2 linked regions of the Homo sapiens genome follow. The protein of the gene in region 1 interacts with the protein of each later gene in a pairwise test. Each region holds a gene or a part of one and is shown on either strand. Other genes may lie near its edges.

Region 1 (3,915 bases):
CCCCGTGCTCTTCTCCCGGCACTTCTTCACGATGGCAAACTGGCCACTGTGGGGACACAGACCCACAAGATTAGGTCATCACTGTGGTCATTGGGGAAATGACCCCACTGTCAGCTACCAGGTCACACAAATTCAGAGTGATTCTGCCAGGACAGGACAAATCATGCCACCAGTCTGCATCCCCACCTGATGACAACCTGTGGATGAGATGGGGCAGGGACTGGGCTTCCCTTCTGTCCATTCCTTCTATGAGGAATGAATGTTAGTATTCTTAGTCCCAGTGTACAGAGGTGAGCACTGAGGCCCAGAAAGGTTATTGATCAGGATGACATAGCCTTGTCATTGCAAAATCTCAGCTAGAACCCAAGTCTAGGACCCACCAGATGAAATCACAATGTCCATAAGCAGACTGGGCTGGTGGGGATCCAGGTTTGGGTAGAGTTTGGAGAGGAGGCAGCCTAACAAGGTTAATCATCATAGTGGGGGAGCATCACAGTCAGAGGACTTGGTATAAACAGAGAGTTGTACAATTAGGAAACTGAGGCATAAGGATAGGTCATGTGACTCGCCTGAGGTCATCGCAGAGTTAATGGCAAAGCCAAGCCTCAAAGTCAGATACCCAACCGGCTGTCCACAAAGCCTCTGAGATAGTTAGAGCAGTCTAGACCATTATTATTCCCCTTCAGGCACTAGTACCCAGGGCTGGGCTCAGAAACCCATTACTCCAGGGACAGAGACAGCAAGCATGAAATGGAGTCCATGGCAGAGTGGCAGGCAGCCCTGAGCCAGCTTCCCTGAGTGCTCCAGGGGCCCTCCCCACAGGGAAGGGCACCAACCACCTGCTTCTGCACCTCAGTTCAGTGACCAGCAGGAGCAGATCTAAGTCCTCAGAGACTTCCCAGTGACCATCTTGCCCGGGGGTCCTCCCGTCCCCTTACTGCCATTTGCCATCATTGCCCCATGTTTTCTTGCCACCCAAAATACCCACTGCTTGAGTAACTCAGAAAGTTTTCTGGTTCAGCTTAATGGCTCAATAAGGGGCCAGCAGACTCCAGACTTAAGAGGTACACTCTTAGTGGCTCTGGGTTAAAAGCTACATACAGGGAAATGCCTGGGATATTTGCCCCAAATGCAGAAAATAGCAAAATAGCACTGCATCTGAACCACTCCATCATTAGCATCATCCTCAGTGAGACAGTCTTCAAAATACCCGGAGTGGCAATAACAACAACAAAGTCAAGTTCAGCAAGCAACAGATACATAGGCCAACACTTAGGTAGCATTCTATGGCAGCCACTTCAGAGACGTTCCCAAACACAAACTCATGCATCTCTCCATTGCCTTAATCTCCATTCAATCAACACTGTCTGGGCATCCAGTCTGTGCCAGGATCTGTGCTAGGCACTACGGGGCAGGGACCAAAGGCACAGACAACAGGTACAGATGGAGCTCTAGGGAAAGAGAAGATCCTGGGGGCTGGACTGGGCAGAGAAGGCTTTGTGGAGCCAAATTTATCTTACATCGTCCACTGACTCTAAATTTTTAGCTATTTCAGTTCCAAATATTGGCTCTGAGCTGTGCACACACTAAGGGCTGACGCAGGTGGAGTGGAGCCAGGCCTCCCAGAGCCAGAGTGAACACATTCAGTGTGAACTCTAACACATATGGTCTCTTGGAGCCACTCTGGGCCTCGAGGACAGCGGGTGCCTTGGTAGGTGCCAACAAACACTTGACCGAGCTTCCAGGCCCGGGTGGCTCTGAGTCTCAGTGTCAAGGCAGCCACACGCCTCTCCTCTCCGACACCTCAAGCAGCCGCTGGCAGGGCCTGGCATTTCAGAGTCCCTGTGACCTTGTCACAGAAGCCCTGAGTTCCTACTTGACCTGTGGGGAAAGCAAAGCTTAAGGGTGGTAAGGGATACACTTAGGTTTACAGAGCACATAGGCAGTGGCGCAGGGCTTGGCTTGGCATCCAAATCCCCCAGCTCCCAGCCCTGCACTGTGTTGACAGCCTTAGGACTTGTGAAACGGCAGAAGGGCTTTTGTAAACTAGAGCTAAACATTTCAGGCCATGTTGACGTTGTTTCCCCTTCCTCTTATGAGGGAAACAGTGGCATTTTTTTTCTATATCACATGCCTGAAAAATTCCTCAAACTCTCAAAAAGCAAATGAGTGTTTGCTTTTCCTGCCTGAGTTTTCTCTTTGCGAGACAGCTGTGGCAATGAGTGGTGACCGGGGCAGGCCCACTGCACAGGCATCTTTCCCTCCCCAAAAGGAGGTATTTTGAGAGTGGGTGACTACGATGGCGCCAAATACCACACACCACCACTCGTCTCACCTGTCTTCACTCAGGCACAGCCCTCTGCTCAACCTGTAGAGGGGAGCCTCAGAGGGAGCCAAGGCTGCTGGCTGGTGTCCCCCACTCCTTGGGCTGTTTCCAGAAGAGCAGAGAACACCCTCCACCAGACCCAGCCCCCAGGCTTCAAGATCAGACAGGCCTGGCCTCAGAGACTTATGCTTTCACCTGCTCTGAACATAGATTTGCTCATCTGTCAAATGGGAATCAGGGTTCCCTGCTAGAGAATTGTGAAGACTGGAAATATTTGTAATGTTGGCCCGTGGTACTCAAAAGTGGTTCATGTGAAGGCTGAGCAAGAGACATCCAGAGACATAAGTCACTGATTCAAATGGTCTGGAATGTGAAACCAAGGAATTGGTTTAATTTTATTTATTTTTAGAGATGGGGTCTGGCTCTGCTGCCCCGGCTGGAGGGCAGTGGTGTGATCATAACTCACTGCAGCCTCAAACTCCTGGGCTCAAGCAATCCTCCCAACCTCAGCCTCCCGAGTAGCTGGGACCACAGGTGCCTGCCACACCACCCAGCTTCAGTTTAATTTTAAAAGCACCACCCTACCCCGCCAATGATTCCCACGCACAGCCAGATGTGAAAATAGCTCTATTCCGAGCAAGTAGCCAACTCTTTAAATCCTAGAGCAGTGGTTCTCAACCCAGGCCACACATTGATATTGCCTGGGGAATTTTAAAACTCCTAGTGTTTAAGTCTCACCCTGAGAGATTCTGATCTCCTGGGTCTGGGCCTGAAGATGGGGCTATTTAAAAGCCCGCTGGGTAACTGACATGCAGCCAGGGCTGACTTACAACAGCTTTCTGATTATCTCCATTTCACAAATGAAGAAACTATACCACTGTTACTCATACTAGTTCCTCATTTTCAGTATTACACTTCCCCATAGTTCTCTGATCTGATCATTTCAGGAAAGGAGTAAAGAAAGGGAATCAGAGGGGAGGGGTTGTCTCTCCCATCAGCATGATTTTTGCTTGAGGGGTTCACCAGTCTAACTGCTGTGTTATGAATATGCAAATCAAGGCAGAAGATTACTCTAGCTTTCGGAGGATAACAGGAGTGAAAATTTGCAGTCAGGCACTCCCTGGCCACTGTACTCAGCAGATGCACAAAAGCAGAACCTGAGGTGGCTCTAGTATGCCCATCAGAGGGCCCAGCCAACCCAAGGGCAGGTGACAGCAACAGGCCTTTTTCTGCACACAGAAGGCTCTGCAGCCAGAAGTTGAGGTCCCACAGTGCAGAAGTCGCCAGCTAGGCTACAGGGATGATGGGTGGGAGGCGAGGGTCTGTCTACTTTAGGACAGAGCCACCCAGAATGTCATCCAGGGAGGGAGCAGAAGGGAGCAATTCAACCTCTAATGAAAGTCATTGCTAACACTAAATCAAAAATGATGGGAATACTGGAATCTGGTATACATATGCAAAGCACACATATTCCAGTATCTCTGCCCCCCATAGCAACAATCAATACCTATGCATGGTCTACTGCAGCACGGGGCTGGTAGGAGGCCCGATTCCTCGTCCTAATCTGCTATCAAAGTTTCATGGGCTTG
Region 2 (3,915 bases), on another chromosome or scaffold:
GTGATGTGCTATAGTGAATAAACAAGCCCTTCTGTTGGGCAGATCTGGCTTTAAATCCACTTGGTCAATTTACACTTCCTAAATCTGTAACCTCATCTAAAGTGTAAATATATTAATATACCTACTTTGTAAAATTATTGTGGTAAGTTATATATGGGATTTAAAATATTTAATCTAATGCCAGGCACATAGCAAATATTAATAATAAATATTAGTTACTTATTATAAATCTGTTTAGTATGGAATACAGTTTAGTATTGAATATCGGGACAGAGTGAACATGTAAGTACATCAATGGGAAGGAACTCCCAGAAACTAATCTGGTTTCCAGCAGAAAGAGATATGAGAGACAAAATAATATAAAGGTAACCTTACTAAGTTTAAGAAATATTTATGAATACCTTTTTTCTAACTACTAGACACTTTGCTAGACTGCTGGATACACAAAGACAAATGAGAAGTGAGTAGATTGCTGGATATACAAGTGAGAAGTGGTCCTTGACTTGGTAGTCTAGTAGACAGATAAAAAAATATGTGTAAGAAAGCATTACATTTCTTACAATAGAAATGTTTTTTGTATGCATAAAGAAGGGGGTGGGCTGGAAAAAGAATGTAGTCAAGGTGACTTGCTCAATACTGAAACTGCTCATTAACTACTTAGGCCAGCACTTATGGCAGACTTGTCAGGATGCCTTGCTAATATTTTCCACTTCCAGTACAGAACAGAGATTACAGGTTTAAGCCAATTTTGTTCAACAGATGAGAAACCCAGTGTCCAAGGATGAAAGAATACTTGTTATACAAGGAATGTGAATATTCCAGAGATTTATGCTCAAAGTCCCCAGGTTAGTGTCTTTCTTTCTCACTAGACTGTAAGCTTCTTGAAGACAAATATCTTGAGTGTTACCTTGCTCACTCTTGAATTGTCAAAACTTGGCCCAGGACTAGGTATGTGGTATACAATCAATAAAAATTTGTTGAATGAATGTTCTTCAAAATCCTTCCATGGCAAAAACAGAAGAAACATTCACGAGTGGACTGCTAGTTGACTGTTTCTCTCATCGCTATTGACAGTCTGAAATGGACAAAGACATCTATATAATCATTCCTTCCTTTCAAATAAATAATCTGTGAATTACGCTATTCTTTTCCTATTGCTTCAGGACAAGCTATTTGACAGAAAGCTTTTAAGAAAGGCTTTGCAAGAAAACTCTGCAACAGAGATGGCACGTATGAATTGCTGTGATCTGGAGTTGAAGACAAGAACAAAAGTAACTCTAGAGCAGAATTCTTTGACCAAAGTCATCTTACTGGTTGGCGGAGGCTCTCAGTCTACTTGCATCCGGTGCTTGAGAGTTCAGACAGGCAAAGATGAGAGGTAGCATCTAGTCAACATCCATTTCTTGAGCACTTACTACATGTCAGCCACTTTGCTTAGTCCCCGGTTTTACTGTGCTCTGCTAGGAAGTGGTGAAGAGATTCGGCGGGATCTTCTTAGGACCAATCCTACAAAGTTCCAGATGGAACTCATTTTGATTTGGGGGACGGTTTACTTGCAGGGATTAGGTGGAGAAACAGGGCCTGCTACTCAAGAGGAATGAGAAACTGTAACTAACAGGAGGTAGACTGGGAAGGAGCATGGCAAAGTCACCCCTTTTCACAGGGCAACGCTCCAAAGACCACGCTCAAGCTGGGGTGGCAGGGCTCTGAACATGGGGCCCCGACCCGGGCCTCGGCCTGGGGCCACGTGACGCGCGTGTTTACGTTGAGTGACGGGCGCTGTGTTGGGCGGGCCTTGGCGGAAATCAACTTCCGGGGGCAGAGGTGTTCGAAGCCGGGTGGTGCGTGGGCTACCCCAACCTGTGTGGCTGGGCCGCGGTCTCCCCTCAAGGGCCTGGGGCCGTGCCTCGGGTGTACGCGTAGGGGTCTGTGTGCTGGGGGTGGCTCACCGGGCAGCGTGGGTGAGCGGCGCAGCGGCGGCAGCGGAGAGCGAGAGAGGGGAGCAGGTAAGTGAACGCTCGCCTTCCGGGGCCTGGGTCTTGGGGTCGGGGCCGCGCGAGGCGAGCGGAGAGCGCCCCACCGGGGGAGGAGCGCGGACGAGCTTCCGCCGCCTGCAGCCCGCCTGCTGCGGCCTCGCCCTTGGCTGTCGCAGCGACCAGGAGTCAGGGGGCGTGACCAACCTCCTGCGGGAACGGAGCCAGCTCCCGGGGGTGGGAGTGCCCACTCGTTCCTGCGCTCGCCGGTGGGTACCGGTATCTGCACGTCCCAGAATCGAGTGTTTTCGAAAGTCTACGCCCACGAACACGTGATTATTGTGTCACCGAAGCGCCTACCGAACGGAGACCTTGATTCTTGCTTAGATTACACAGAACGCGCCTGGTTTATGTATCCCCTTTTACTTTGCCAAGTACATTGGGGTAAAAGCTCTACAGCGTCTGCCAGCCACATTTCCTTAGAGTTTCTTGGGCCACATGTTGCAATAAAAGTGGCATTTCAGGGTCAAGGCAGGAGCCAGTAACTTTGCCAAGTGGTGAGGTATCCTTCGTCCCCGTTAGCACGCCTCCCTTTCCCAACAATAAAGATATTTTCTCCATCTGCGCGTGTCGCCTACTGCGGAGGAAAGCTTTGGACATGAAACCTATTTTTGGCTTCACTTTAAGGAGTGGAACTCTATTAAAAGCTGCGCTGGTGTTTTTTTGGTAGGATGATGTTGCTGCTGCTACTCTCACTTGCTTCCTTGATGAGAGTTGGGGCAGAGCTCGATTTCCTGGAGGGTAAAGTCTTGGCCACAATTTTAGGTGACTCAGCGGCCCCTTATGAATTCTGACTCTTTCCTTCCCTCCCCTCTCAGCTGTGCGGATACTGATGCCACCTTTCTCTCCAAATATTAATCCGGGTGGGAGTTGGATGATGGTTTTTGGAAGCAGTTTGCATGTTGCGTGGTGGAGTTATTGGAGTGGGCTGACATTTTACTTCACAATTTAAGGCAACCCTTCCCCCCCCCACAATATTTAGTTGGGTGGGGTGACAGGGACTGACAACAAATTCGCTGTTGTGTTCCCTGCTGTCGGAGAGTTCTACACTTAATGATCACCTGATTGCCCTCTGCTACAATTTCTATTGCGTTGAGGGGATTGGTTATACTGTCTGTACCTATTAGGTAAATGTAGTAAGGGTCATGCCAGGCAGAGTGCACCTGCATGGTGTTGGCTAACCAGTAAACTGTGTGGTAGAGAATTGCCCTGGTTACGAAGTTTGGTATCCTCCAGGCTGCCTAGGAGGGTGTTCTGTGGGCTGGGAAATCTTATGAACTGGTTTCCTAGCAACAGTATAAGCCCAATGGAATAAACATAAAGAAAACAAAGTGATGAAAGTTACAACTTACCTCTTAACTTTTATTAAATGGAAAAATGTAGCTTCTTATTGGAGTGATCCACTCAAAACTTCTGAGACATTTTTGTTTATTTTGATCATCTTAGTACTTAATAACACACAAAAGAAACTGCAGAAAATCATTCCAGAGGGACATCACTTTGGTTTTGGGTGGCATTAAAATAGAGAAAAAAGACGTTTAAAAATGAGCTTGTCTGGAGCTTAAATGGACAAACAGGAATTTGGTGTAATAGGCATTTTATGTTGTACTCTTATCTATATGTGTCAGATGTATGCATTACATATGATTGTTATGAATGAAGATAGTAGAAGACGGAGTGGGAGTGGAGTAGAGTGGATGGGTGGATAAGACTGGTTCCATTAAGTAAAATGGAAGGGGAATGTTTTAGATAAGTTGTTCCCAAACTGTAGGTCATAATTACAGCACTCCTTTGTCAACCTGTTCCTTGTGATTTTTAATCTTCCTTGAAAGTTTATCAAATTTTCTTATTTTCTGTCCAAACAATGAGAACTTAATTGAAA

What was found.
Region 2: the proteins of DAPK2 (region 1) and CCDC91 interact in binary tests that used the Homo sapiens proteins (3 or more experiments, as listed by UniProt).

What each region holds. Positions count from the first base shown.
Region 1 is NC_000015.10:63,983,709-63,987,623, forward strand, and holds part of DAPK2 (death-associated protein kinase 2), read right to left. Parts: intron 47-3,915; coding exon 1-46. UniProt on the Homo sapiens protein: Calcium/calmodulin-dependent serine/threonine kinase involved in multiple cellular signaling pathways that trigger cell survival, apoptosis, and autophagy.
Region 2 is NC_000012.12:28,188,636-28,192,550, forward strand, and holds the start of CCDC91 (coiled-coil domain-containing protein 91), read left to right. Parts: upstream 1-1,820; 5' UTR 1,821-2,006; exon of another isoform or gene 2,007-2,103; intron 2,104-3,915. UniProt on the Homo sapiens protein: Involved in the regulation of membrane traffic through the trans-Golgi network (TGN). Functions in close cooperation with the GGAs in the sorting of hydrolases to lysosomes.